7 linked regions of the Homo sapiens genome follow. The protein of the gene in region 1 interacts with the protein of each later gene in a biochemical or structural test. Each region holds a gene or a part of one and is shown in the gene's direction. Other genes may lie near its edges.

Region 1 (4,169 bases):
AACAATAGAGATTTTATCAAGGATTACTCCTCAGTTTGGGAAGTATGGTTTTTTGGGGGTTGTGGGGGTGAGGCACAGAGTTTCACTCTTGTCGCCCAGGCTGGAGTGCAGTGGTGCGATCTTGGCTCACTTCAACCTCCACCTCCCAGGTTCAAGCAATTCTCCTGCCTCCTGCTTCAGCCTCCCGAGTAGCTGGGATTACAGGTATGTACCACCACGCCTGGCTAATTTTTATATTTTTAGTAGAAACAGGGTTTCACCATGTTGGCTATGGTGGTCTCGAATTCCTGACCTCAGGTGATCCACCCACCTCTGTCTCCCAAAGTGCTGGGATTACAGGTGTGAGCCACAGTGCCCAGCCAGGAAGTATCTTCAATCTAAAGATTTCGCCAAACTCCAAGCAACTTTTTTTTTTTTTTTTAAACATAGCTACCTATTGACTGCCTCCAAATAATTTCCTTTAAGTGCCCAAGATGTGGCTTCAAACATTAAAATCTCAGACTATTAATCTACTGTCTCAGCATAGCAGATTACATTCACTCACATATTGTAGTCCTTACAGTGTGACTGTAAAATCATACCTCTACTATCAGTCACCAGACTGGTTTCAGACATCTTAATGACTAGGGAATCATGTTGATACAGACATTGACACAGAAGTCTGTGTCTTGGAATGTTGGTAACTATGTGGATATAATCACTTTACCCATTCTACCCATATCGATCGCCTCAGCTAAAACTTCAGTTTCAGTTATGTCTTTCTCTTTAACTCTGATTTCATGCAACCCTCTTCTCTTTCCAGCCTTATTTTGACAGAAGGCTACTACTTGACCTTCCTTTAGATCACCAATCCTTTGGGACAGATATCTTCCCAGTTGACACTGTCTCTCATAACAGCTAGTTATTTTACTCCAGCTATTTCTGTGCACATCTAACTCTCCTTTCTGGGGGAGTTAACCTGTGAGTCACCATTTTGATTACTTCAGATATGCTTATTACTGCTGAAGAATAGTAATCCTTATTCTAAAATGCTTGGGTACATCAAATAACTTTATAGAGGTAGCTTTACAGGTTTTTCTTTATTTTGATTCTTTTTCTCTTACTCTCCAATTTAAGAAGCCTTTTTCTAAAAGCACTTCCTGCAGGTGGGTGCTAAGTGGTTGGGATAGCAGAACCATAGATTAGGGCAACTGTAGATAACCTACTTGGGGAGGACAGTGTGATCAGCAATGCCCAGGAAGTGATCAGGAAGGAAGGCTGAAGTCAGGGCTAATGACAGCAAGAGCTGACCTTCCCCTCTGACATTTTCCTACTTGGCTTCTGCAATGCCATTCTTTCTCTTTTTTTTTTTTTTTTTTTTATATTTTATCTAATATTTTATTTACTGATCTCTCTGAAACATGCCAAAATTCATATAGCTAAGGGAACTTACCATGCTAAAATGTTGTTCAACATGACAAATTTATACAAAACATATTTCAATGTAGTGCCTTCATTTCATTCTTGAGGAATCAACATTACATTTAGGTGGTGAAATTTAGGATACAAATATAATTATCAAATATCGTACTTCTAGTTTACTGGAAAACATAACAGTTGTGACAGTAACACCTAACACCTTGGTTAATTAAAGACAGAAAATGGGCAGGGGTGTCACAGAAGTATGCAAGGATTTGACAGTTCAAACTAATCCATAGCCCTTCTGAGAAACTACAGATGGAAAATATGTAGTAAATATTTCTGTAATATGGTGGTTTCAGTACATTATAGCACAGTGATCATCATTCCATTCATACACTCAAATAAATGCTGCTTCTGATCACTGAAAACTAGATTCAAAGTCATTGCTCAACAAGCTGATACTACAAATCCCTTATATTAACAGGTACTTTAAATGTGGAAATAAGGCAAAGCATACTTGTTAGTCACAATTACTTTTAGATATAATTGAGACTACACTGCTATACATAATTAGGTACACAGTATGTATAACAATGCATACTATGGTGTGGGGTTAATTCCAATTACCATATTTTATATTTATTGGTCACAACAGCATACATTTTATGCTCCAAAATACATGGATCTGACAAAATGGTTACATTTAATGTTCTTTTAAGGAAAGATGAACTAAATTTAAGAAGAATTGGTTTTTCCTAATATCTCATTTTCAAATTACTGATACAAATTTGCCAGAGAAACAATTACATGTTTTACCTAACATCAAATAATCTCCAGTTTCTAAGACAGATGCATTTCTTGTTCAGTTTCCAAAAGTAAATAAAGGCTTTCTAACTGAAAACATTTGCATCCCTAGCTCTCTAAAGTAAACATTAAAAAGAAAATTACAAAAAATGACCTCTAAGCTTCTGAACAGTCCACTTAGTTACATAAAGTACTTTCTGTCCCAACACTTTCTCTAATTCAAAAGATATTTACTTCCTAAGTACACGACAAAGTCTTCATTTCAAACCATTCACTCAGTTTCCATGGTAACATTGCGGGCTTCCTTGGCTACCATAAGTCGCATTAGTTGACTGTGGAATTTCTCAATCTTCTTTACATCTTGAGCTTGGTCTGTTTTATACACCAAACAAACTAAATCATCTGTTACTTTAACACACAAGTTCCCATCAGAATGCCTATATTTGAGAACCACACGTGCCTTCATAGGGTCAGCGAGGTAAAGCTTCTCGGCAGCGCGGCTGAACTCCTCCCAGGTCTGGTACTGCGGCATCGTGGCCTAGAGTGGAAAAGTAAAGAGAAGCAAGGCCTCAGAACCCGGCCCAACAAACTACCTACGTCCGGGAGTCGCCAACCGACGCGAGTCCTGCAATGCCATTCTTTCTTAGCTTTACTTCTCAGACTCCTTTTCATATACTGTGATACCTTAATTCAGCAAATGTCAACAAATTGCTCTGTACCATGTACTCTAAAGGATGCTGGGGAAGTAGTGATGAATTAAGATGCACATGGCTCTTGTCCTTCATGGAACTAAGAGTCTAGAAAATGCCGGGCGCAGTGGCTCATGCCTGTAATCCCAGCACTTCGGGAGGCCGAGGCGAGCGGCTCACGAGGTCAGGAGATCGAGACCATCCTGGCTAACATGGTGAAACCCCCCCTTTACTAAAAATACAAAAAAAATTAGCCAGGCGTGGTGGCGGGCACCTGTAGCCCCAGCTACTCTGGAGGCTGAAGCAGGAGAATGGCATGAACCCGGGAGGCAGAGCTTGCAGTGAGCTGAGATTGGGCCACTGCACTTCAGCCTGGGGGACAGAGCGAGACTCTGTCTCAAAAAAAAAAAAAAAAAGAGTCTAGAAAATAAGGCAGTAATTACAAATTTTAATAAGTGACAAATACTGCTATGAACAGCAAAGACAAAAATCCCTGTTGTATGGAGCTTGCATTCTAGTGAAGGAGGTGGGAGATAGACCAACTAAATGGTGTGAAGATAGGAAAAAATGTGGATGGGCAGAAGGGACTATTTTAGATGGGATGGTCAGGGATAGCCTTCTTAAGGAGGTGACATTTAAACAAACCAGGTAATGAGTAGAAGTGAGGATGCTTTGTGCAAGGGAAGAGCATTCCAAGCAGAAGGGTGGCATGTACCAAGTCGCTGACATACTTGACAAACTGAAAGTATATTATAGTTGGGAAAGGGAAGAATCGTGTGAAATGAAATTAGAGAAGAAGTTGAGGGCCAGTTCATGAAGGAGCTTTTAAGGCCATAGTAGAGTGTTTGAATTTTATTCTGAGAGCATCAGTGGGAAGCCAAGGAATTATTTTAAACAGGGCTGTGATATTATTATTTTTAAAAGGTCACTAGAGACAAGTGGAAATGAGAGACCTATTTAGGGGAGACATTGCAGGAGCTTATGCTGGAGGTGATAGTGGTTGGAGTAAGGTAATGTCAGTGGAAATAGAAGTTGGAAACGTGTTGAGTTTGAGATACCTTTAAAATATCCAGAAGGAAATATGTTAAGCAAACATTCTGGAATTTGGGTGAAAAGTGTAGACTGGAGATTTAAATCTGAGGGTTGTGTATCTAGGTGGTATTTAAAGCCATGGGATCAGATAAGATTATCTAAAAAGAGGTTAGAGAACTGAGTCTTGAGGAATCCCAATATTTAGAAATTAGGTAGAGGAAGCAATAAGCCCTCAGTGAGATA
Region 2 (4,930 bases), on another chromosome or scaffold:
CTCCTGAGTTCAAGCGACTCTCCTGCCTCAGCCTCATGAGTAGCTGGGATTACAGGCGCCTGCCACCACGCCCGTCTAATTTTTGTGCTTTTAGTAGAGACGGGGTTTCACCATGTTGGCCAGGCTGTTCTCGAACTCCTGACCTAAAGTGATCCGCTGGCCACAGCCTCCCAACCGATTAATACTTAATTAAAACGATATTTCTCTCCAGAATTCTTTTTTTTTTTTTTTGGGACGGAGTCTCGCTCTATCGCCCAGGCTGGAGTGCAGTGGCACGATCTTAGCTCACTGCAAGCTCCGCCTCCCGGGTTCACGCCATTCTCCTGCCTCAGCCTCCCGAGTAGCTGGGACTACAGGCGCCCGCCAACGCTCCCGGCTAATTTTTTGTATTTTTAGTAGAGACGGGGTTTCACGTGTTAGCCAGGATGGTCTCGATCTCCTGACCTTGTGATCCGCCCGTCTCGGCCTCCCAAAGTGCTGGGATTACAGGCGTAAGCCACCGCGCCCGGCCCAGAATTCTTTGTTTTGAGATAGGGTCTTGCTCTGTCGTCCAGGTTGGAGTGCAGTGGCGCGATCTTGGCTCACTGCAGCTTGACCTTCCAGGCTCAAGCGATGCTTCCAAGCTCAGCGTCTGCAATAGCTAGGACTACAGCTGTGCACCACCATGCCTGGCTAATTTTTTTGTAGATATGGGGTTTCTCCGTGTTGCCCAGGCTGATCTGGAAGTCCTGGGCTCAAGCAATCCTCCTGCCTCGGCCTCCCAAAGTGCTGGAATTACAGGTGTGAGCCACCATGCCTGACCTCAGAATTCTTGATAACCCTGTGAGGATGGCTTAAGCTATACTCAGGTGTGTGACCTTGTACAAGTTACTAGCCTATCTAGGCCTGTTTCCTCACTTACAAAATGGGGACAAAAATAAACCTACCTCATAGTCATGAGCATTACATGAACTGTTATATCTTAGAAGCTCAGAAATGCCTGGTGGTAAATGCTATAAATACACCCTTATCATTATTAGTGAGTACCTAGGTTGTGCATGCCACTGTTGGGTGCTTTACGCACATTAATTTACTTGTCAGAATAGCCATGGGGGGGAGGTACTATTATAATGCCACTTTAGATATGAAGAAACTGACGTTTTGAGAGATTGGATGATTAAATCTCTGACTCCAAACACAACGCTTCCTCCAACGCGGTTTGGCCTTGGAGAGGAAGGCAGCTTCTTTCAAGACACCCCTGAGCGAGAAAGTCGCGTCATCCGGGGGCTCCCATTGCCCGAGCCCGCCACGTGGCAGTCTGGGCCGAATGCCTCTCCCCACTTTCTGGGTGGGCGAGGCCTGACTCCAACCCCGGCCCTCCGCTCTAGACCTGGTACCACTGTAGATTCAATCCAAACTCCCAGAAATGTGCCGCCTTTCATAATCCCCAGCTGTCCACTACAGGTGGTAACTCCCCTGCTGCTCAATGTGGCGTAAATCTTCCCTTCCATAGCTGCGGGACCACAGCTCACCGACCTGGGACAAACACCCGAGACGGGCCGAATTCCAGCTCGCAGGTAGTAATTCCGCCCCTCCCCTCCCCGCTCCGTCGCGTCCAGTCCAGCTCTTCTAGCCCTGCCCCGCTCCTCTAGCCCAACCGCTCCCCACTGTTGGCCCCGCCCCTCCCCGCCCCGTCCAGCTCTTCTCGCCCCGCCCCGCTCTTCTCGCCCAACTGCTCCTCGCTGTTGGCCCCGCCCCTCCCCCGCCACCCCCGCCCCCGCCCCGCCCCTCTCTTCTCGCCCAACCGCCCACCTCTGTTGGCCCCGCCCTCCCATCTAAGTCACGCCTCCTAGTAGGTCAATTTAGCTTCTCCAGCTCCAGAGCCCAGACTCCTCATTGGGCGCAGCACTATTCCCGCCTCTTCCTTGGGTCGCGAGCGCCGAACTCATCGAACGCAGCCAATGGGTGATACGACGGCAGCGCGGCGGGAGGTTCGATTGACCCGGTCTTGGCGGGTCGGTGAGTCTTGGCGGCTGTTAACGCGCGCTTTGGGAACAGGAAGGTTGAGAGAGAGGTGCTGGGGTCTGCGTCTATCTCTGTCGCTCTTTTCAGCCCCTCCTGGTATTCCCCTCCTAACCTGGGTTTTTTACACGCCCGCGTGGCTTCCTGCTCGACCTCCCTGAGTCTGATCCTGGTTTCCACCTCCAGCCCTGGGAAATTTCCTTTCTCCAGACTCGCCCTCCCCACCCGGGCCTCGGACTTTCACCCCAGCTTCTCTCTCCTGGCCAGTGATTACCCACCCCCAATCCCACCCCGCCCCGCCGCGCAACTACCTCCTCCCTTCACCCGGACTGGGACCATCATCCCCACTCCACTCCGCCCAGTCTGGGACTCCACCTGCCTCCTCCCCAATCCCACACTAATCTCTGCTTGGTCTCTTCCTCTTTGGCCTAATCTCTCGTCTCGGCTTATTGGGGACGGCCACTCTCACAGTTTGGTTCCAAACACCAGTTCCTGGATGGATTCCCGCCATCCATGCCCCCTCTTTAATTAGCCGGTCCTCTCAATAATGTAGCAGCCCCCTCTACAGATTAGACCCTGGTCCTACACTCTTAGCCGCTGCCTGCTTTTGACCTTTGGCTCATGGGTACTTGACGTTTTAAACTCCTAGGCCCAGGATGGTAAGTGTGGGCCTAGGGGAGACTGGGAATAGCCCTGGGTCAGGGTCTAGTAGGCCTAGGCTGCAGGATCCTTGCAGGCACTGTTTCTGTTCTCCCTTTACAGAGGAGGAGCTTGGCTCCCAGCCAGCTGGCCAAGAGAAAACCTGAAGGCAGGTCCTGTGATGATGAAGACTGGCAACCTGGCCTAGTGGTGAGCACTCAAGGGGACAGGGAAGGTGGGTAGAGCTGTTTGGACAGAAAAGAAGCCAGGATTTGGTTTCTAGGGTTACATAGCCAATTCCAGATGCCTCTTTTGTATGTTCAATAAACTTTTAGTGAGTACTTACTATGTGCCAGGCATTGAACAAGATTAGTAAAATCTTTATCCTCAGGGTAGTCACTAGAAGCTAATATAGCCTCAGTTTTCCTGGTGGGAAAAGATAAGCAAAAGAGCCAGTTGGATTGGACCTTTTGACTCTGCTTGGAAAAAAGGGCTACACAACAGCAATTAGCAGCTGGCTCTTTTGCTCTTTGTCCCCTGCCCAGTGTCACAGAACAGTAGAGTGTTCTGGGCCTACCTTGGAGTCCTGGGCTCACTTGGGCCTAGATCTGACAGGTTGTGTCCTTCCAGTCCTTGCTCATACTCAAGTACAGTATATTCTACTTTAGGTTGGGCCCTGGGCTCTGCTTCCTGTTTTGGAGGCTTGTTGGGGCTGGCTGTGGGCAGGACCTATGTAAACCAAAATAAATAGGACAGTGCAGCATGGACTTCAGAGAATAAGAGCAGTTCAAGAAGTGGGGGCTTGGCCACTGGAACTTTGAAGGAAGGGATCAGCTACGCAAGGACTAGAAGGCACTTTTTGGCAGGAGCAGTGTGTGAATAAGGTGTGGGGTAGGGGTGCTGGTGTTTGTTTCAGGTGTGTCTTACAGGATCACTGAGGCTTCAAATATCCTGGCAAGCTGGTACAAGTGTGTTCTTGCCTAATGGCTTGATGGGGCTTGCTCAATAGTTGTACCGTGGTGTGCAAGGGGCTTCTCTACCTGTGAAGGAGGCACATTGGCTGACCCTTGCCATGTACATGGGTCTCAGACTTGAACTTGGGGCAGCATTCTCTGCATCTGGGTCTGCTGTCAGTTGCTGGTTGCTTCTGAAGATGCTTTTAGTGCCAGTGTCCTCACAGCCATGGGTGGCCTGAGTGGGGAGTGGCCTCAGTGGCCTGGGAGTTGAAGGCAGCTGTATTCTTGCCTCTTGGAAACTCAGCGAAATGTTTGGTTGCTCCATCATTCCATGGAGCTTTTGGAGTGAAGCTTTGGGCCACCAGGACTCCATGCTGTTGGTAGACTTGCTCTTCAGAGGCCCATTTTATTTACCTCTTCCATTGCCCCGCTCAGTTTAGGCAGGTTATTTAATCTCATTAAGCTCTAGTTTTCTCACCTCTTAAATAAGGATAATAACTCTACATAATAGAGTTGCTATGAAGATGATACACTATGACATGTGTGAAGAATTTAGCACAGTGCCTGGCACTTAATAAGCACTTCAAGTGTTAGTTGCCATTATGGTGATTTCTGTGGTCTTCTAGACTTCACCTTTCCCAATTCTCTCTCCTAGACTCCTAGGAAACGGAAATCCAGCAGTGAGACCCAGATCCAGGAGTGTTTCCTGTCTCCTTTTCGGAAACCTTTGAGTCAGCTAACCAATCAACCACCTTGTCTGGACAGCAGTCAGCATGTAAGCCAGAACTGCAACCTGCATGTGTATGTCTGTGCCCAGTCACTCAGCCTAGGTAGACTCCTGTCCCTGTACACTCCCTCAGTGCTTTCTAGAGTGGCCAGAAGACACACATCTGTAGGGGCTTTGGACCTGCCCACAGCTGCTGGGGCCTGCTTAGAGAGGTGTGCCTGACTTGTGCCTGGTTTATAGTAGCTACATGGGCACCAGATATCAGATGGTTCAGATTCCTGAGGAAAGGAGGGTAAAGGAACTAGGATCCTCATGTCAGCTCAGACTCTGACTCTGTATATGACTTTAAGGTGTACCAGAGTCATGTATTTCCTCTAGTAAAGTCAAACTTAATCACCACCATGGCAGGTTCTGTGCATTGCCTCATGTAATTCTCACGTTTTAAGATGAGAAAACAGTCTCAGAAGGGTTAAGTAATTTGCTCAGAGTGGGTGGAGCAGATCTGTCTATCTCCAAAGCTTTTCCACTAAGCTTTATGAGGAATGTTTTGAAGGAAAAGTAGGAATACATAATGGAGATTAGTCATTTGTGCATTCAGCAAACATTT
Region 3 (4,169 bases), on another chromosome or scaffold:
GCAAGGGTTCAATGAGCTGTAATGTCTAAAGTGCTAAGAATAGTGCCTGGCTCATCCTAAGTGCTTAAGAAGTGTTGGCTTTTACAAACGTTATTAACATTGAGCTCCAGACCTGCTTTGTAGACAGGCAGCTGGGCCTCAGAGGAGGTTAGCCTTGTGCAGTTATCCAGCAAGTTGGTGGCTGGGCCCGGGCCAGCGCCGTTTCCCGGCCCAGTGCCCTTTCTCCTACCAGGCTGCCTCTGAATTTAAGGGCCGGGGGCCAGGTGGCTTTCGAAATTTATTTCTCAAGCCGGGCCTGGGCTGCAAGGGGCGGGGCTGCAGGAAAGGAGGAGCCAGGGGGCCTCTGGGGGCTGCGGGGCGGGGAGAAGGAGGAGCAGGAAGGGGTTAAGCTGACTCCTGTAGTAGGTGTGTCTGTCCCGGGATGTGGGTGACTCAACTGGCTCCTGGGCGGGGCTGCCCAAGCTGCAGCTGCTCCGGAGGGAGCAGGGCCAGGGTGAGGGAGAGCCAGCGCCAGAGCCGTCGGACAGGTCCCAGCGCGGGTAGCAGCCCAGCTCTATCCCTGCGCCCGGCTGGCCGCACCCAGCAGCCCCAAGGCGGGTTGGGGGCGGGGGGCCATGGCCCAGCCTGGGGATGGGGAGGCCAGCATGTCTATCCTGGAGCGGCTGCTGGCCAACGCTGCGCTGAGGGATGAGGCTGGCCGGCTCCGAAGCCCTGAGCCCAGGGCTCTCCCGCCCACAAGGGTGAGTCAGGGAGCGTGAGGTGGGGGGTGGGGTGCAAGAAGCCCTGGCTGGGATTTTCCCCTGTGCCAGAGGCTGCCCCTCTTGTCTTTCCTGGGCCAGGGTGAGGGCTGAGAGGTCTTCCTGGGGAAGATTGAGCAGACGGCACTTTGGCTGGGGAAGAAGGGCCTGGGTACTTATAGGAGGATGGGGGTCAGATGGGGCATGGGGGAGGACGGGCTGGAAAAGCTGTCATTGGTGTTGGAACCTTGCCTTGCAAGGGAAGTCGCAGAGAGGCTTTGAATCTTGACCTCTCCTAATCAAAAGGAAAGTGCACTGCCTGCCATTCCTGTGTGAAGACCACTCCTCTCCTGGCTGTTAGCCAAGTATTGCCCAAGAGTTGTAAACATGACCATGGGACCATCGATTGAGTGCCCACTGCATGCCAAGCACTATGCTGAGTGCTTGGTCTAAATGATCTCATTTAATCCTCTCACACCAGCCCCATGCAATAGGAATTATCCTCGTTTAAGGATGAGGACGCTGAGACCCAGAGTGGTTAAGTGATTTGCTCAAGGTCACACAGCTTTCTGTTGCCAAAGTGGGGCTTTCAGGCACTAGGCAGCGCTGACTCTGCTGGATTGACTCCCACCCTGATGGAATCTAATCGTTGTTTCTTTGTCTGTTTTTTTTTCTTATTCCCAGGGACTCCTTGGCTGGTCCCAGAAAGATCTGCAGAGTGAATTTGGGATCACAGGAGACCCACAGCCCAGCAGTTTCAGTCCTTCCAGCTGGTGTCAAGGTGCTTCTCAGGACTATGGCCTTGGGGGTGCAAGCCCTAGAGGAGACCCAGGTCTCGGAGAGAGGGACTGGACCAGCAAGTATGGGCAAGGAGCAGGGGAAGGGAGCACCAGGGAGTGGGCCAGCAGGTGTGGCATCGGCCAGGAGGAGATGGAGGCCAGCAGCAGCCAAGACCAGAGTAAAGTGTCTGCCCCAGGGGTGCTCACAGCCCAGGACCGGGTAGTTGGAAAGCCAGCCCAGCTTGGCACTCAGCGGAGCCAGGAGGCAGATGTTCAGGACTGGGAGTTCAGAAAGAGGGATTCCCAGGGCACTTACTCCAGCCGGGATGCAGAACTCCAGGACCAGGAATTCGGAAAGAGAGATTCACTGGGTACCTACAGTAGTCGAGATGTAAGCCTTGGGGACTGGGAATTTGGGAAGAGAGATTCTCTGGGTGCTTATGCCAGCCAAGATGCCAACGAGCAGGGCCAAGATTTGGGGAAGAGGGACCACCATGGTAGGTACAGCAGCCAGGATGCCGATGAGCAGGACTGGGAGTTTCAGAAGAGAGATGTGTCACTCGGCACCTATGGCAGCCGGGCTGCGGAGCCACAGGAACAGGAGTTTGGGAAGAGCGCTTGGATAAGGGACTACAGCAGTGGTGGCAGCTCCAGGACCCTTGACGCCCAGGACAGAAGCTTTGGAACGAGACCCCTGAGCTCTGGGTTCAGCCCCGAGGAAGCCCAGCAACAGGATGAGGAATTTGAGAAGAAGATTCCAAGTGTGGAAGACAGCCTTGGAGAGGGCAGCAGGGATGCTGGCCGGCCAGGAGAGAGAGGATCCGGGGGCTTGTTCAGTCCTAGCACTGCCCACGTGCCGGATGGGGCACTCGGGCAGAGAGACCAGAGCAGCTGGCAAAACAGTGATGCTAGCCAGGAGGTGGGAGGGCATCAGGAGAGACAGCAGGCAGGGGCTCAGGGCCCTGGCAGTGCTGACCTGGAAGATGGGGAGATGGGAAAGCGAGGCTGGGTCGGTGAGTTTAGCCTCAGTGTTGGCCCCCAGCGAGAGGCAGCATTTAGCCCAGGGCAGCAGGACTGGAGCCGGGACTTCTGCATCGAGGCCAGTGAGAGGAGCTATCAGTTTGGCATCATTGGCAACGACAGAGTGAGTGGTGCTGGCTTTAGCCCTTCTAGCAAGATGGAAGGTGGTCACTTTGTGCCTCCTGGGAAGACCACAGCTGGCTCGGTGGACTGGACTGACCAGCTGGGTCTCAGGAACTTGGAAGTGTCCAGCTGTGTGGGTTCTGGGGGCTCGAGCGAGGCCAGGGAGAGTGCCGTGGGACAGATGGGCTGGTCAGGTGGCCTGAGCTTGAGAGACATGAACCTGACCGGCTGTTTGGAAAGTGGAGGGTCTGAAGAGCCGGGGGGAATCGGAGTTGGGGAGAAGGACTGGACTTCTGATGTTAATGTGAAGAGCAAAGATTTGGCTGAGGTCGGGGAGGGAGGAGGCCACAGCCAGGCCAGAGAGAGTGGCGTGGGGCAGACTGACTGGTCAGGTGTGGAGGCCGGAGAGTTCCTTAAATCAAGGGAGCGTGGAGTTGGACAGGCAGACTGGACACCTGACCTTGGGCTGAGAAACATGGCCCCAGGGGCAGTCTGCAGTCCTGGAGAGTCCAAAGAGCTTGGGGTGGGCCAGATGGACTGGGGTAACAATCTGGGCCTGAGGGATTTGGAGGTGACCTGTGACCCAGACTCTGGAGGTTCTCAGGGGCTACGGGGATGTGGAGTGGGGCAGATGGACTGGACCCAGGACTTGGCGCCCCAGAATGTGGAGCTCTTTGGGGCTCCAAGTGAAGCCAGGGAGCATGGGGTGGGCGGGGTGAGCCAGTGCCCAGAGCCCGGCCTGAGGCACAATGGCAGCTTGTCTCCTGGCCTGGAGGCCAGAGACCCCTTGGAGGCCAGGGAGCTGGGGGTTGGTGAGACAAGTGGGCCAGAGACCCAGGGTGAAGATTACTCCTCGTCTTCCTTGGAGCCACACCCTGCAGACCCTGGAATGGAGACAGGAGAAGCCCTCAGCTTCGGAGCAAGGTAATGAACGGAGCCCCATCCCAAGTGTGGGAGGGAACATGTGAAGGCTGTCCAAGAAATCGGAACCTTTCTGAGGAGGGAAGAAACAGTTTTTCCTGAGGACTTTTAGTGTTTGGGTAATTGAGACATTTTGGACTAAGAATTTTTAGTTCTACTTAAAAATAATTGAAATATGATACACATACAGGTGAGTTCCTTTTTTGAAGGATGACTAATGTGTTACTTTTGCAACCCATGTTTGAGCTTGGTGATTTGGAATTGTGACTGTGACGGGGGAAATGGTGCATGTCATAGCTTGGATGGTTTCTGATGGGTTCTACTCTTGTACACAGTAGCCGTTCCCCAGGCCTCTCAGCCCTGAAGCCACAGGTGGTTTCATAGGTATAGGGCAGAGAATTCCGTGTCTTCTTGGCTGGGGCCACCACAGCCAGGAGTGGAGTGGACAGTGGAACCCACGGGTTCTCAAAGAGGTTAGGTACTTGGTGCTTCTTGCCTGTCCTGTCTTGAAGCCTGGAATAGCAAGTTCAAGAACCTGAAGGGTATGGGGACCTGGCCCCATGACCTTGGCCTCTGTGCAAATTTGCTG
Region 4 (4,169 bases), on another chromosome or scaffold:
GCCTGTGGTCAGGCTGACCTCCTGGAAGCTAGGTTCTGTCTTTGTCCCCATCTTCTCTTTCCCTTAGATTGGATACCATATTCCTCCTCTTCCCTATGCCGTCTCCTCCCTTCCCCTTGTGCACATAGTTCTGTGCACATAGTTCCGCTCATGCACATAGTTCTGATTCTCCTCTCCTCCTCCCTCCACTCTGGGCAGATGCACAGATAGCCATGATGCAGCAGCGCATTGACCGCCTAGCCCTGCTGAATGAGAAGCAGGCGGCCAGCCCACTGGAGCCCAAGGAGCTTGAGGAGCTGCGTGACAAGAATGAGAGGTACAGCTCTCCCTGCATTCCTTCCCAGGCCCCAGCCCCTCCCCTCACCCAGCCAGGAACCCATACTCTCTTCTCACTGCTTCCCTCCCTCGCAGCCTTACCATGCGGCTGCATGAAACCCTGAAGCAGTGCCAGGACCTGAAGACAGAGAAGAGCCAGATGGATCGCAAAATCAACCAGCTTTCGGAGGAGAATGGAGACCTTTCCTTTAAGGTGGGTGTTAAGGTGGTGTGTGCATGGAGGCCCCTCAGGGCTGAGGTGGTCTGGAAGGCTCCCCAAGAGAGGGTTGAGAAGAATGTCCCAGCACCTGTCTTATGCTTCAGTCTCTCCAGAGACCTGCATATTTTGCCCCTTTCCTTATCCCATAATTGGCGGCTTCCCGGGTACTGGGCTGTGACCCTAAATGTTGATTTGTAGTTCTGAATTAGAGGTGTGATGGCTGTGATTGGTTTGTAGAGGGTTGGCAGGATAATTGGAGGCATCCAGCCCCTGGGGTTCTGGGAGCAGACAGCAGTGGTGGGGTCAGCGTTGACTCTGGGTGATGGGGATTCTCACTTGCCCGTCTCAGCTGCGGGAGTTTGCCAGTCATCTGCAGCAGCTACAGGATGCCCTCAATGAGCTGACGGAGGAGCACAGCAAGGCCACTCAGGAGTGGCTAGAGAAGCAGGCCCAGCTGGAGAAGGAGCTCAGCGCAGCCCTGCAGGACAAGGTAACCCTCTGCTGGGGTCACAGCCACAGTCTTGACCACATGTGCAAAGCTGAGTCCAGTTTACCACTGTGCTCTTCTGGGCCTTTGGGTATTAAGTTGCTTTCTCTTCAAGGTTCAATAGTGTGCTGTAATTGAAAGATTGTGGGCTTCAGTCTAGTACACCTTTTTTTTTTAACTTATTTTTTTTTTCCCCAGTCAATGCCCTCACTTTATAGTACACCTTTCAATCCTATCTCTGCTGTTCACAAGATGTGGATCTTGGACAAGTTAATCAGTCTGTTTTTCTAAGCATCCTTTCCCTAAAATGGGAGTAGTAACGAGTAGCTGCCTCATCACCTATTATGAGAAAACGTATGTAAAGCACTTCACACATCGTGTAGTGTAAAGTAAGCTCTCAGTGAACCAGTTGTGATTGTTACTATTGGTAAGAACCCAATTTGGCCACTTACTAATAACCATGTAGCCCTTGATCAAGGCACTTAGCATCTGCTTCAGGTTCTTGCTCTGTAAGAGGAATGGTAGTAGCTGCCTCCCACATAAGCTGGGTGTGGTGATGCATGCCTGTAGTCCCAGCTACTCGGGAGGCTGAGACAGAAGAAGCTCTCGAATCTGGGAGGTGGAGGTTGCAGTAAGCCAAGATCTCGCCACTGCACTCCAGCCTAGGCGATAGAGCGAGACTCTGTCTCAAAAAAAAAAAAAAAAAAAAAAAAATTAGGGATGAACCCAGCATAGCCTATTGTAGGTGCTTAGTGAACAGTGGTGAAGAAGTGGGTTTGGGACTGGGGGTTGCTGCAGCTGCTGCCAGTGGTATTGCTGCCCAGAGGATGGTGGGCAGCTGGTGGTGATTTGGATAATCTAGGACTCAAGACTTATCTGAGGAAGGGTATACGGTAAGGAAATTTGAAGTAAACTCAGCAGCCTTGGGGAAGTAGTAAGCAGGTTACATTATGACTTTATTGTGCCTTAGAACTAGGTCTAGAGAATCAGGTCCCTCATGCTCCCAGTTCCATGGTTTCTGCTTTTTTCTAGGCCAGGGCAAAAGGAGATCTTGGTAACAAGATGATGGGCCCCATGTTTGCTGATGTTTATGAGGGCTTGTGTGGTAATCTGGTGCCTGTTCCCCCTCTCTGTTCACATGGGTCTCATTTACTCCCAGAAATGCCTTGAAGAGAAGAACGAAATCCTTCAGGGAAAACTTTCACAGCTGGAAGAACACTTGTCCCAGCTGCAGGATAACCCACCCCAGGAGAAGGGCGAGGTGCTGGGTGATGTCTTGCAGGTAGGAATGCACAGAAAGACCTGTGTGCTGCTGGTTGGTGTGGACTCACATTCAGTACATTTGGGTTCCTGGTGTTCCTCCATTTCCAGAGGAGTCTTGATGACTGAGGAGTCATGCTGATCCCAGTTTGTCTCTTTATACCACCAGCTGGAAACCTTGAAGCAAGAGGCAGCCACTCTTGCTGCAAACAACACACAGCTCCAAGCCAGGGTAGAGATGCTGGAGACTGAGCGAGGCCAGCAGGAAGCCAAGCTGCTTGCTGAGCGGGGCCACTTCGAAGAAGAAAAGCAGCAGCTGTCTAGCCTGATCACTGACCTGCAGAGCTCCATCTCCAACCTCAGCCAGGCCAAGGAAGAGCTGGAGCAGGCCTCCCAGGCTCATGGGGCCCGGTTGACTGCCCAGGTGGCCTCTCTGACCTCTGAGCTCACCACACTCAATGCCACCATCCAGCAACAGGATCAAGAACTGGCTGGCCTGAAGCAGCAGGCCAAAGAGAAGCAGGCCCAGCTAGCACAGACCCTCCAACAGCAAGAACAGGCCTCCCAGGGCCTCCGCCACCAGGTGGAGCAGCTAAGCAGTAGCCTGAAGCAGAAGGAGCAGCAGTTGAAGGAGGTAGCGGAGAAGCAGGAGGCAACTAGGCAGGACCATGCCCAGCAACTGGCCACTGCTGCAGAGGAGCGAGAGGCCTCCTTAAGGGAGCGGGATGCGGCTCTCAAGCAGCTGGAGGCACTGGAGAAGGAGAAGGCTGCCAAGCTGGAGATTCTGCAGCAGCAACTTCAGGTGGCTAATGAAGCCCGGGACAGTGCCCAGACCTCAGTGACACAGGCCCAGCGGGAGAAGGCAGAGCTGAGCCGGAAGGTGGAGGAACTCCAGGCCTGTGTTGAGACAGCCCGCCAGGAACAGCATGAGGCCCAGGCCCAGGTTGCAGAGCTAGAGTTGCAGCTGCGGTCTGAGCAGCAAAAAGCAACTGAGAAAGAAAGGGTGGCCCAGGAGAAGGACCAGCTCCAGGAGCAGCTCCAGGCCCTCAAAGAGTCCTTGAAGGTCACCAAGGGCAGCCTTGAAGAGGAGAAGCGCAGGGCTGCAGATGCCCTGGAAGAGCAGCAGCGTTGTATCTCTGAGCTGAAGGCAGAGACCCGAAGCCTGGTGGAGCAGCATAAGCGGGAACGAAAGGAGCTGGAAGAAGAGAGGGCTGGGCGCAAGGGGCTGGAGGCTCGATTACAGCAGCTTGGGGAGGCCCATCAGGCTGAGACTGAAGTCCTGCGGCGGGAGCTGGCAGAGGCCATGGCTGCCCAGCACACAGCTGAGAGTGAGTGTGAGCAGCTCGTCAAAGAAGTAGCTGCCTGGCGTGAGCGGTATGAGGATAGCCAGCAAGAGGAGGCACAGTATGGCGCCATGTTCCAGGAACAGCTGATGACTTTGAAGGAGGAATGTGAGAAGGCCCGCCAGGAGCTGCAGGAGGCAAAGGAGAAGGTGGCAGGCATAGAATCCCACAGCGAGCTCCAGATAAGCCGGCAGCAGAACGAACTAGCTGAGCTCCATGCCAACCTGGCCAGAGCACTCCAGCAGGTCCAAGAGAAGGAAGTCAGGGCCCAGAAGCTTGCAGATGACCTCTCCACTCTGCAGGAAAAGATGGCTGCCACCAGCAAAGAGGTGGCCCGCTTGGAGACCTTGGTGCGCAAGGCAGGTGAGCAGCAGGAAACAGCCTCCCGGGAGTTAGTCAAGGAGCCTGCGAGGGCAGGAGACAGACAGCCCGAGTGGCTGGAAGAGCAACAGGGACGCCAGTTCTGCAGCACACAGGCAGCGCTGCAGGCTATGGAGCGGGAGGCAGAGCAGATGGGCAATGAGCTGGAACGGCTGCGGGCCGC
Region 5 (3,182 bases), on another chromosome or scaffold:
TCTTCGCCCTCCTTCCCTAAGTGCAGCACTCCTCTGAGTCTGATTGGCTGTCCTCAGGTAGCTCTCTTTGGACCCAGTGGCCTCTGAGCCTTGGGTGTTCCTTCTATCTCCCTCTAGGGCTCTGACAACCTATATGATGACCCCTACCAGCCAGAGATAACCCCCAGCCCTCTCCAGCCGCCTGCAGCCCCAGCTCCCACTTCCACCACCTCTTCCGCCCGCCGCCGGGCCTACTGCCGTAACCGAGACCACTTTGCCACCATCCGAACCGCCTCCCTGGTGAGTGTAGCCATCCTCACTCAGCCTGCTCGCTGTCTGTTTTTTAAGTCTTTTTAAGTCTAGAAATGATTTCCTCCCTGTGGCATGGGATTGAGTCTGGATTCTACCCTCATTTTCTGTTGCTGGCTCCTGCCTGCTCCCCTTAACCCTCCTGCTTCCCTCCTCTTCCCAGTGGACTGTTTTGGTCATATGGCCCAATCTGGGTGTTTCTAGCTTGGCAAACTCTTACTCCGTTTTTGTGGCCTGACTTAACTGACATCTCCTGGGTTGCCTTCCCAGGCTCCTCTGGTGAGTCAGATGCTTCACAGTTGTGTGCTGGGGAAGCCCAGTGCTGGGGGAGCCCTGTGCCTGTGGAGCCCTGTGCTGGGGGTGTCCAGTGCTGGGGAGCCCTGTGCCGGGGGTGCCCTGTGCTTGGGTGGTCCTGAACAGCATCATGATAGGTTTGCCAGATTCTGTGCCCCAGAGGGCAGGGATGGTGTTCAGATATCTGTCTCATGCCAGCAGTTAGCTCTCAGGCTTACACACAGGCCTGTGTTAACCCTCCCAGCCCCCCTGGGAGGGGAAGGGTAAGATCCCATTGGAGAAATGAGGCACCTGTGGCTCAGAGGGGCCACTTGCCCCAGTGCCTTTGGTGGCTCTCTGCTCCTGTAAGCAGGCCCTTAGTCCTCTCCTAAAATCAACTCATGGCAGTCTTTCTCAGTTCACAGGAAAAAGTGTTTAGGCTTTTCATAAAACATAGTTTTTCATCTATGTTTTTAGATCACGTTCCTGCTGAGCTGCATTTGAGCGTCAACAATCCCCTTAGAGGCCACTGATTAAGTCTAGTATGTTCTTATGGCCTCTGCTTGGTGCTGGTTGTGTTCCAACAATTCTTCAGATCCCATGGTGTTGTGCGGTACTGTGCTGAGAGGTCTTGACTGCCAGGGGCTTGGCTGCCGGGACTAGTTTGAGAGCCACTCATAGAGTCAATTGAGAATGAGACCTGAGATCAGACTTTGGATGAAGGTGTCCAAGCCCAGTGTTCTTGTTATTCCAGCATCTTGTGGCCCCGATCCCACCTCAATACCTGGGGAGTGATAGGCCGACCATGTTTGCTGAAGGGGAAGGAAGCCAACACTTATTAGATAGAGTCCGAACTTACCCCACAGCCCCTATGAGGAGGTATTATTTCCCCATTTAACAGATGAGGGAACTGGTGCTTTGAGAAGTTAACTTACTTGAGATCACATGCTTGGTAAGTGGCAAAGCTGGGATTTGATCCCAGGTATGTCTGACTCACTGTTTCAAATTAGTATGGATTGTTCCTACTTTTGTGCCAGGCCCTGTGCTCGCCACCTTTTATCATTCGGCCACACCAACTTGTGATGTAGATAATATCACCATTATCCAGTTGAGGAAACAGGCTAGAGTGGCCGTGTGTGAGGAAGGTGTTAAATGAGAATGAAACCCATGAGTTGAAAACCCATGCTCTTCCCCACGGAAGACCCCTTGTGTTAATTAACTAGGGGCCAGGCTGAGCCCCAGCTCTCACCCTCTCTCCTTCCCCAGGTCAGCCGTCAGATCCAGGAGCATGAGCAGGACTCTGCGCTGCGGGAGCAGCTGAGCGGCTATAAGCGGATGCGACGACAGCACCAGAAGCAGCTGCTGGCCCTGGAGTCACGGCTGAGGGGTGAACGGGAGGAGCACAGTGCACGGCTGCAGCGGGAGCTTGAGGCGCAGCGGGCTGGCTTTGGGGCAGAGGCAGAAAAGCTGGCCCGGCGGCACCAGGCCATAGGTGAGAAGGAGGCACGAGCTGCCCAGGCCGAGGAGCGGAAGTTCCAGCAGCACATCCTTGGGCAGCAGAAGAAGGAGCTGGCTGCCCTGCTGGAGGCACAGAAGCGGACCTACAAACTTCGCAAGGAACAGCTGAAGGAGGTGAGCTAGGGCTGCTTGGGGGCGGAGCCGATGGCGAGCCAGGTGGGTCCTGACCCTGCTTCCCTCTGCACTCGCCCAGGAGCTCCAGGAGAACCCCAGCACTCCCAAGCGGGAGAAGGCCGAGTGGCTGCTGCGGCAGAAGGAGCAGCTCCAGCAGTGCCAGGCGGAGGAGGAAGCAGGGCTGCTGCGGCGGCAGCGCCAGTACTTTGAGCTGCAGTGTCGCCAGTACAAGCGCAAGATGTTGCTGGCTCGGCACAGCCTGGACCAGGACCTGCTGCGGGAGGTAGGCATCCCAATCTCTGTTCCCCTCCCGCTCACTCGTGGATCCCAGGGACCCACCCTTTTCCATTTTCCTCATTCTTGTCTTCTTTCTCCTTGGCCCTCGAGTGTTACAGTTCAGCTTTGCTTCAGTGCCCCTTTTACTTCTCATCCCCAACAGACCCTGCCAGAATTTCCTTAGGCCTCTTTTCCCAGGCCAGGGAGGAGCTTGCCTCCCCTACACCCTCATCTCCTGCCATCCCCAGCTCCCTCTGCCAAGGAGCCCTGGCCCCTCACTTCCTTGATACTGACCAGGCCCTGGGCCCTGTGTTTCTTCCGCCATCCCCAGCTCCCTCTGCCAAGGAGCCCTGGCCTCTCACTTCCTTGATACTGACCAGGCCCCGGGCCCTGCATTTCTTCTGCCTCAGGACCTGAACAAGAAGCAGACCCAGAAGGACTTGGAGTGTGCACTGCTGCTTCGGCAGCACGAGGCCACGCGGGAGCTGGAGCTGCGGCAGCTCCAGGCCGTGCAGCGCACGCGGGCTGAGCTCACCCGCCTGCAGCACCAGACGGAGCTGGGCAACCAGCTGGAGTACAACAAGCGGCGTGAGCAAGAGTTGCGGCAGAAGCATGCGGCCCAGGTTCGCCAGCAGCCCAAGAGCCTCAAAGTACGTGCAGGCCAGCGCCCCCCGGGCCTTCCACTCCCCATTCCTGGGGCTCTGGGCCCACCC
Region 6 (4,169 bases), on another chromosome or scaffold:
TTTTTTCCTTTTCTTTTGCTGTCTGAGACAAAGTCTGGCTCTGTCCCCCAGGCTGGAGTGCAGTGGCTCAATCTTGGATCACTGCAACCTCCGCCTCCCAGGCTCAAGCGATTCTCCTGCCTCAGCCTCCTGTTAACGTACGAATTTTGGGGGATACATTCCAACCATAGCAAGCCCTCCATGATCTTCTTCTTCTTCCTGATTTTGTCTCTGGTTGAGCCTCTTTGCTGTCTGCCCCTGGGTGAGAAGGTTTTGAGGTTGAGTGGGACTCTATCACTTTATTCATTCATACCTTCAGTTACTCATTGACTCTCTGAACATTAGGGACCATCTATATCATGTGCCAGCCCTTGTGCCACATGCTGAGAGGTCCAGGGATGAACAAGACCCAGTCGTATACTTGAAATGTTCTTAGTCCAGTAGAGGAGATGGACAGGCCCGGGCCTGGATCCCGTGAAGGGTGCTGAGCCCAGGCAGGCATGGCTGGGGATGCCCTAGAGCAGGGAATAACAGGACTGAATCCTGAAAGATAAGCAGAGGTCAGCCAGGTGCCAGGGATTTGCAGGGTGTTTCAGAGAGGCAGAGGGTGCCCAATGCCTGGCAGTTGAAGAGTTCCTGACCCAGGTATGAGAAGCCATGCAGGGCAGGCAGCAGGAGGGGCGGGCACTGAGGAGCTCAACTCTAACCAAGGGTGCAGGGCAGCCCTGTAGTGAGGTTTTAAGTAGGCAGGTGATGTGATCAGGTCTGTGTTTGAAAATCTCCAGGGAGGCAAATAGCCTGGAGCCCAGCGATGCCTGTGAAAAAGCTGTTAGGGTCACCTAGGACAGAGATAAGAAGGCCAGGATTAAGGACCTGTCAGTGGGGGTGCAGAGACTGGAGGAGCTCAAGCTAGAGGAGGCACAGTGGCCTCAGTGTTGGCTTGGCTACTGGGGAGGAAGAGGAAGGAGTCGTGATGATGCCAGGGGTTGGGCATCGGTGCCAGACTTGGGGAAATGGAGGGGCGAGAGGTTTGTGGGGAGGAGGTCTGTTTGGAACACACTGAGTTTGAGTTGCCAGGAGCACTGCTGGGTAGAGGTCTACTGAGGCCTTGGAGGATAGTTCTAGAACTTGGGGAGAGAACTGGGCTGCAGCACATCGAGAGTATTGAAGCTATGGAAGTGGACCCAGTTACCCAGGAGGAGAAAAGAAGTGGGCCCAGGAGGTTGTCTTGGGAAATAGCAACAATAGGAGATGGATGGAGAAGGAAGAGCAGGAGATGGAGCCACTGAAAGGTCCGAGGGATGGGAAGGTGTCATGTCTCTAAAGCCCCGCGAAGCCAAGGGGAACAGGCGTGAGGAGCTAGCAGTGGGGTCAGGCACTGCCCACGGGTTAGTTAGGTCTGAGATATGGAGCATCCAAGAAGTTTGCAGGTTAAGAGCTCACCGGTGACTCTGGTGGGGGTACATGGGGTCTGGAGCAGTAGGTGTCAAAGCCAGAACGCAGGAAGGCCTTGAGGAAAGGTCAAGGAGTGGGGAGAGAGAGACAGGTCCTCAGGAGGGGGGAAGGGGTCTATCTGCAGCCCAGATGGAGGAGCTGGCTTGAGGCAGGAGGAGAGGCCTCCTATCCTTTGAGACAGAAGGAAAGAGGAGATGTTTTGTGTGGTCAGACGTGAGTTGATGGCTGGGCGTGGTGGCTCACGCCTGTAATCCCAGCACTTTGGGAGGCTGAGATGGGTGGATTACCTGAGGTCAGGAGTTTGAGACCAGCCTGGCCAACATGGTGAAACCCCGTTTCTAACAAAAATACAAAAATTAGCTGGGTGTAGTGGCACACGCCTGTAATCCCATCTACTCGGAAGGCTAAGGCAGGAGAATTGCTCAAACTCAGGAGGTAGAGGTTGCAATGAGCCGAGATTGCACCACTGCACTCCAGCCTGGGTGACAAAGCGAAACTCCATCTCAAAAAAAAAAAAAAAGGGTTGACAGGTGAGTGGTCAGGGAAGTGAGAGGTCTCACTTGATGGCTTCTGTTACCTTGCAAAGAAAGTGAGATGCTCTGTCTAGAGGGTGTCAGGGCAGAGGGCTGAGGAGGATGGAGCAGTCCTGTGGGAGCAGCCACCTGTGCAGTCCCAGAAGGCACCCCTGGCAGAGGTTGGCTGAGGTTGTACACCATGAATGGAATGTGCTCCATGAAATGTGTTCATGGGTTGGCTGGGATGTTCTCCAGTGAAGTGCGGCCACCTGGGCTTGGCGTGGCGCAGGCAGCCTGTGGGACAAGCTCCGGGGTTGCTGTGCTGGGGTGTGGCCTTGTGAACACACAGTCCTGGGAGGCTGGGCCCACTTCACAGTCCGGGAGTGCCCCTTCCCTAATCCAGCACCTGGATTTAGGACTCCTCCCTTAGTCCATGAACTCTGCCAGGGCCAGGAGAGAGGAGGGGGACTACCAGAGTTTACTCCTGGTTCCAGTAGACCTCACCCCAGCCAGGTAGACCCTGAGAGCCTGGAGAGAACCCTGCCTGGCCACCGGGGTCTCAAGATGGAATGTGTTGGGGTGCTTTGAATCCTGCCTCCTCTACTACTGTGTGACCTTGAGCTAATTACTGAACTTCTCTAAGCCTTAGTTTTCTCATCTGTAAGATGGGAATAGTGAAAACATATGAATGCTTACCTAGGGGTCCATGTGCCAGGCGCTGTGCTACATGCTTTATTTCCTTTATACGTCATTTCAGTCCTGTCAGGTAGGTTCTGATTTTATCCTATTTTTCGGGTACGGAGAGGTGATGTAACTTGCCTAAGTTATTGTGGAGCCCAGATCTGCACCAGGCTGCCTGTCCCCAGCTCATGCCTGTCCGCCTCTGCTGTGGAGTTCCTTGATGAGGACTCGCAGAATGGGCACTGAGTCCCAGCCTCCGGGTGACTGAGCTTGGAAACACTCAGCCCTCACCTGGCTCCTGAGAGGCCCTCCGGAAGTTCTTGCTGCCACAGTGATAATGACCCTCCTGCGCTCTGTGCCTGCAGAGGTGGAAGCCAAGGGGGACACTGACAGGCTCACGCCCGAGGCGCTGAAGGGGCTGGTCAACAAGCCAGAGCTGCTCGCGCTGACAGAGAGCCTCACCCCCGACCACACAGTGGCGTTCTGGATGCCCGAGTCAGAGATGGAGGTGATGGAACTCGAGCTGGGGGCCGGGGTACGGCTGAAGACTCGGGGCGATGGTCCCTTCCTGGGTGAGCAATGCAACCCTCACTGTGGCCCACTGTTCCTGTGTGGCCCATGGGGGCTCTTGGCCTCCCTTCTGCCTAGAGCTCATGGGAGCAGGCAAGGGCTGGCCTCCATGGGGACACGACCAAGCCCTTGAGATTTACTCCTAAATCCCTGCACAAGTGCCCTAGGGCCATTGGGCTCGACAGCCTGGATCCCCGGGTGCCACCCAATCCCATGGTTCCTGTGAGCGACTCTCCCACCATACCTTGGGGGTCCCACCCAGGGGCTCATTGACCACATCTATGCCTGGAGAAAACAGTGGTTTAACCCAGGCCTAGGGGACCCCACCATAATGGGCCCAGCCCTCACTATGTTTCTGCCACAGGGACAGAGGACATTCAATTTCATCTCTTCTTTCAGATTCATTGGCCAAACTTGAGGCTGGAACAGTGACCAAGTGTAATTTCACTGGTGATGGAAAGACAGGGGCATCCTGGACAGACAACATCATGGCCCAAAAGTGTTCGAAGGGGGCTGCAGCGGAGATCCGAGAGCAGGGGGATGGGGCAGAGGACGAGGAGTGGGTAGGTACCTGGTGTTGGTGCAGTTGTATCTCCTGGCAGGAGCATGGTACATACTGGTTGAGGTTGTGGGTAGGATGAGAAGACGACAGGATGAATCTTACCCCCCAGCTTTAGTGGAATTCTGTGAAACACCTGGGAATGTGTTAGCATCAGGAGAATTCCTCTAAGGTATGAAGAATGACAACCTGGGACCTTTCTTGTAGGTGGCTCTGAACCTAACTATTCCCCAAAGATTCCCAAGTGGTAGGAAGGAGGGGGTGCAGAGGGATATTAATCATGGTCATTAAGTCTCAAAACATTTCTACTTCAAGTGAATACATTAACCATGCTGAGGCAGTTGAACAACTGAATGCGTAGTTTTTCCTCCTTTGGTTTGGGCTCCTTGCCTGAAGTGTCTGGAGAATGG
Region 7 (3,848 bases), on another chromosome or scaffold:
TGTATTTCTCATAGTTCTAGAGGCTGGGAAATCTAAGATCAAGGTGCTGGCAGTTACATTTGTTGTCTGATTCATAGATTGCCATCTCACTGTGTCATCACACAGTGGAAGGGGTGAGGGAGCCCTCTGGGGCCTCTTTTATAAGGGCACTAATCTCATTTACAAGGGCTCCACCCTGGTGACCTAATCACCTCCCAAAAGCCCCACCTCCTAATATCATCATATTGAGGATTAGGTGTCAACATATTAATTTTCGGGGGAGACAAACATTGAATCTATTTCAGCCCCCACCTATTTCCCTGGGAAAGACACTGCTCTCCTACCCCAGCCATTCCCTCCCGTGCCTTCCATGGCCATCACCTCAAGGGAGCTTTGGGTTGGCTTCCTTCCCAGATTCAAAAGCCCATTGGGTCACTGTGGTCAGTTCTATTTCTCCTAAACTGTCCTGTGTGATCAGGAGTGGAAGTGGTGTTACCCAACTGGGTAAGCAAGAAGTCTTCCTCAAAGTCTTGTAGCAGAATCTCAGTCACCCTTTATACATAGAGTTCTGAATCCTACAATCGTCCTGATTGTTACAGTTCCAGCAACAAAGCACTCAGAGGCAGGGACCCCATGATTGGAAACCCGCGTGTGCATCGCCCTCAGCATCTCTTCAGGCCTGAGCCCACAGTGGCTTTATCTGCAGTGCCAACACTCTGACATTTGGCAACTTTTTTACTTTTTTAAAAAATAAATTATAACTTTGGTGAGGGGAGGGAATGGGGTCGTTTCTCTTAGAGAGAGGACAAATAGATTTTATTTATTAAAGGAAAGGTTGATGGACTCCAGTCTCTCTCCTTTGAATGATGCCATTTATTTTACAGTCTATAATTTGGTCCCACTGTGAGCCTCCTACTTTTCAGAGGCAAAGTGTTTTTGGCGCTGCTGCCACAAACTCCCTCTGCATAAAAACCACGTCTGGTGTAGTCCCAGAATAGAAACCGTCTGTCCTCTTGTGTATAGTCTTGGTTTTAAGTTGATTTCATGTGAATCTTTCCCTTTTGGGGGAAAAAGATTTTACCTACACCGTCACCCCATGAAACAATCAGGGATGTCATGGGGTATCCCGTGGAGACACATATTTGGGTCTTGACTCTCAGAAGCCCCACTTGGTGGGACTGTCCTCTAGGCTTGGCCCCAAATAAACAAACAGCCCACTGCATGTCCCCTTCCGGTCTTGAAGAAGCAAACTACTTATTTCACAGTAAGCTCTGGGATGATAGGTCCTATCATGTCAGATATGATGCCTCATAAATCTAATTCATCCGTCCTAGCTGCAGTTTTAATCTACTCAAATGTACTTAGCTGGGTTTAATTATAGATAGAAATTGCATTCGGAAAGCAACAAGAAATCATTTACATGGCTTGAATTTGCACATTAAATCATATGGTTCATTTGAGAGTGCGGTAGGGATGGTATTTCCAAAGAAAAATAATATTAGTGCCTGTGCTTAGGGGCTCTCACACCGATTGCACAAATTGTATGAATTGCACAATTTCTACAGACTGCATTTTTCTTCTTGGCACAGGATAAACGAAGAGGCTGGGGACACTGAGAGGACCCAGTCGGCATTGGCACTGAGCAGAGCCCGGTCCACCAATGTCCACAGCAAGACCTCAGGAGACAAGCCTGTTTCTCCCCACTTTGTCCGCCGGCAAAAGTACTGTCATTTTGGGGACGGCGAAGTGCTTGCCGTCCAGAGAAAGTCCACAGAGAGATTAGAACCTGCTTCCTCTCCCCTGGCTTCTCGGAGTACAAATACATCCCCGCTGTCGAGGGAAAAGCTGCCCAGTCCTTCAGCGGCCCTCTCGGAGTTCGTGGAAGGGCTCCGGAGGAAGAGAGCCCAGAGAGGCCAGGGGTCCACGCTGGGCCTAGAGGACTGGCCCACTCTCCCCATTTACCAGACGACTGGGGCCTCCACACTAAGGAGGGGCAGGGCTGGCAGTGACGAGGGAAACCTCTCGCTGAGGGTTGGGGCAAAGTCACCCCTGGAAATCGAAGGGGCCGCTGGTGGTCTCTTGAGGTCCACCAGCCTCAAATGCATCTCTTCAGACGGTGTTGGGGGCACAACCCTACTCCCCGAAAAGTCGAAAACCCAATTCAGTTCCTGCGAGTCCCTCTTAGAATCCAGACCGAGCATGGGGAGAAAACTGAGCTCTCCGACCACACCCAGGGACATGCTGTTGTCGCCCACACTGCGTCCTCGGAGGCGGTGTCTGGAGTCCTCTGTGGACGATGCGGGCTGTCCAGACCTTGGAAAGGAGCCGCTTGTTTTCCAGAACCGCCAGTTTGCCCACCTGATGGAGGAACCTCTAGGCAGTGACCCATTCAGCTGGAAACTCCCAAGCCTCGACTACGAACGCAAGACCAAAGTGGACTTCGATGACTTCCTCCCAGCTATCCGGAAGCCCCAGACACCTACCTCCTTGGCTGGATCAGCCAAAGGTGGGCAAGACGGTTCACAGCGTTCAAGCATCCACTTTGAAACGGAAGAGGCTAACCGTTCCTTTCTCTCGGGGATCAAGACCATTTTGAAGAAGAGCCCGGAGCCCAAGGAGGATCCCGCTCACCTGTCTGACTCGTCCTCATCCTCCGGCTCCATCGTGTCCTTCAAAAGTGCTGACAGCATCAAAAGTCGACCAGGAATCCCACGACTTGCGGGTGACGGTGGCGAGCGAACGTCCCCCGAGCGGAGAGAGCCAGGGACGGGGAGGAAAGACGACGATGTTGCGAGCATAATGAAGAAATACCTCCAGAAGTAGGAACCAGTTCAGGTAAAAGCAACAGGCTGGGGCTATTCTTGGGGGAATGAGAGTTCACCTTGCAGCCTTGGGGAGAGCAGGTGCCACTACTGTCCTTAATGCCACAACCGATTTCTCTAGAGACCAAGATTTTTAGAGGTTTTAGCTGAAGTCATGTGTTGATGGATGCAAAGCTTTTCAGAACCCCTCTGCTGGGTACCTCTACTTCCTTGTACTTTGAAATGCAGACACATCAGAAAGTAAGAGGTTCCTGTGGGATACCGCTAAAGAAGGTGCCAGATGTAGCCGGGCGCGGTGGCTCACGCCTGTAATCCCAGCACTTTGGGAGGCCAAGGCGGGTGGATCACCTAAGGTCAGGAGTTTGAGACCAGACTGGCCAACAGGGTGAAACCTCGTCTCTACTAAAAATACAAAAAATTAGCCAGGTGTCTTGACGGGCGCCTGTAATCCCAGCTACTCAGGAGGCTGAGGCAGGACAATCGCTTGAACCAGGGAGGCAGAGGTTGCAGTGAGCTGAGGGTGCCACCACTGCACTCCAGCCTGGGAAACAAGAGCAAAACTCTGTCTCAGGGAAAAAAAAAAAAAAAAGGTGCCAGATGTTTAAAGTTACCTCACCCTACTGTCATTTTCTTTTCTTAATGTCATTCCACCTGGGTTTGAAGGAGCTGTGATGGCGTTCTGTCCACATAATGACAGAAGATCCGTGGTGGGATCACAGACATGCAAAGGGCCAAGTTGGAAGAGACCTTCAGAATAGTGGAGTCCACTTGCATTGCATATGGAGAGAAACTGAGGCCCTAGGTTCAGGGGGGAGGGAACAAGTACAAAAATCACAGAGCAACAATGCAGGATAAGTAACTACTTGCTGCCCTTCCTCCCTCTCCTAGCACTCATCCTGCCACTCATCTGGAGTCAAGGTAAGAAGAGGAATTCAGGCCGGGTGCGGTGGCTCACGCCTGTAATCCCAGCACTTTGGGAGGCCGAGGCGGGCGGATCACGAGGTCAGGAGATCGAGACCATCCTGGCTAACACAGTGAAACCCCATC

The links.
Region 2: the proteins of TNKS2 (region 1) and RAD54L interact in a biophysical measurement, tested with the Homo sapiens proteins (one study listed by IntAct).
Region 3: the proteins of TNKS2 (region 1) and TNKS1BP1 interact in a biophysical measurement, tested with the Homo sapiens proteins (one study listed by IntAct).
Region 4: the proteins of TNKS2 (region 1) and NUMA1 interact in a biophysical measurement, tested with the Homo sapiens proteins (one study listed by IntAct).
Region 5: the proteins of TNKS2 (region 1) and TAOK2 interact in a biophysical measurement, tested with the Homo sapiens proteins (one study listed by IntAct).
Region 6: the proteins of TNKS2 (region 1) and ARPIN are reported together in a solved structure, tested with the Homo sapiens proteins (one study listed by IntAct).
Region 7: the proteins of TNKS2 (region 1) and MYO18B interact in a biophysical measurement, tested with the Homo sapiens proteins (one study listed by IntAct).

The regions. Positions count from the first base shown.
Region 1 is NC_000010.11:91,804,703-91,808,871, forward strand, and holds part of TNKS2 (poly [ADP-ribose] polymerase tankyrase-2), read left to right. Parts: intron 1-4,169. UniProt on the Homo sapiens protein: Poly-ADP-ribosyltransferase involved in various processes such as Wnt signaling pathway, telomere length and vesicle trafficking.
Region 2 is NC_000001.11:46,245,749-46,250,678, forward strand, and holds the start of RAD54L (DNA repair and recombination protein RAD54-like), read left to right. Parts: upstream 1-2,014; 5' UTR 2,015-2,657; coding exon 2,658-2,660; intron 2,661-2,763; coding exon 2,764-2,850; intron 2,851-4,251; coding exon 4,252-4,371; intron 4,372-4,930. UniProt on the Homo sapiens protein: Plays an essential role in homologous recombination (HR) which is a major pathway for repairing DNA double-strand breaks (DSBs), single-stranded DNA (ssDNA) gaps, and stalled or collapsed replication forks.
Region 3 is NC_000011.10:57,307,809-57,311,977, reverse strand, and holds part of TNKS1BP1 (182 kDa tankyrase-1-binding protein), read left to right. Parts: intron 1-459; exon of another isoform or gene 460-614; coding exon of another isoform or gene 615-740; intron 741-1,421; coding exon 1,422-3,583; intron 3,584-4,169.
Region 4 is NC_000011.10:72,014,543-72,018,711, reverse strand, and holds part of NUMA1 (nuclear mitotic apparatus protein 1), read left to right. Parts: intron 1-198; coding exon 199-316; intron 317-411; coding exon 412-529; exon of another isoform or gene 530-884; coding exon 885-1,025; exon of another isoform or gene 1,026-1,353; intron 1,354-1,824; exon of another isoform or gene 1,825-2,181; coding exon 2,182-2,304; exon of another isoform or gene 2,305-2,451; coding exon 2,452-4,169. UniProt on the Homo sapiens protein: Microtubule (MT)-binding protein that plays a role in the formation and maintenance of the spindle poles and the alignement and the segregation of chromosomes during mitotic cell division.
Region 5 is NC_000016.10:29,983,386-29,986,567, forward strand, and holds part of TAOK2 (serine/threonine-protein kinase TAO2), read left to right. Parts: intron 1-117; coding exon 118-279; intron 280-1,827; coding exon 1,828-2,193; intron 2,194-2,272; coding exon 2,273-2,476; intron 2,477-2,879; coding exon 2,880-3,182. UniProt on the Homo sapiens protein: Serine/threonine-protein kinase involved in different processes such as membrane blebbing and apoptotic bodies formation DNA damage response and MAPK14/p38 MAPK stress-activated MAPK cascade.
Region 6 is NC_000015.10:89,902,810-89,906,978, reverse strand, and holds part of ARPIN (arpin), read left to right. Parts: intron 1-2,995; coding exon 2,996-3,202; intron 3,203-3,599; coding exon 3,600-3,763; intron 3,764-4,169. Other genes in the region: ARPIN-AP3S2 (uncharacterized protein LOC100526783), read left to right, coding at 2,996-3,202, 3,600-3,763. UniProt on the Homo sapiens protein: Regulates actin polymerization by inhibiting the actin-nucleating activity of the Arp2/3 complex; the function is competitive with nucleation promoting factors.
Region 7 is NC_000022.11:26,024,877-26,028,724, forward strand, and holds part of MYO18B (unconventional myosin-XVIIIb), read left to right. Parts: intron 1-1,568; coding exon 1,569-2,802; 3' UTR 2,803-2,814; intron 2,815-3,848. UniProt on the Homo sapiens protein: May be involved in intracellular trafficking of the muscle cell when in the cytoplasm, whereas entering the nucleus, may be involved in the regulation of muscle specific genes.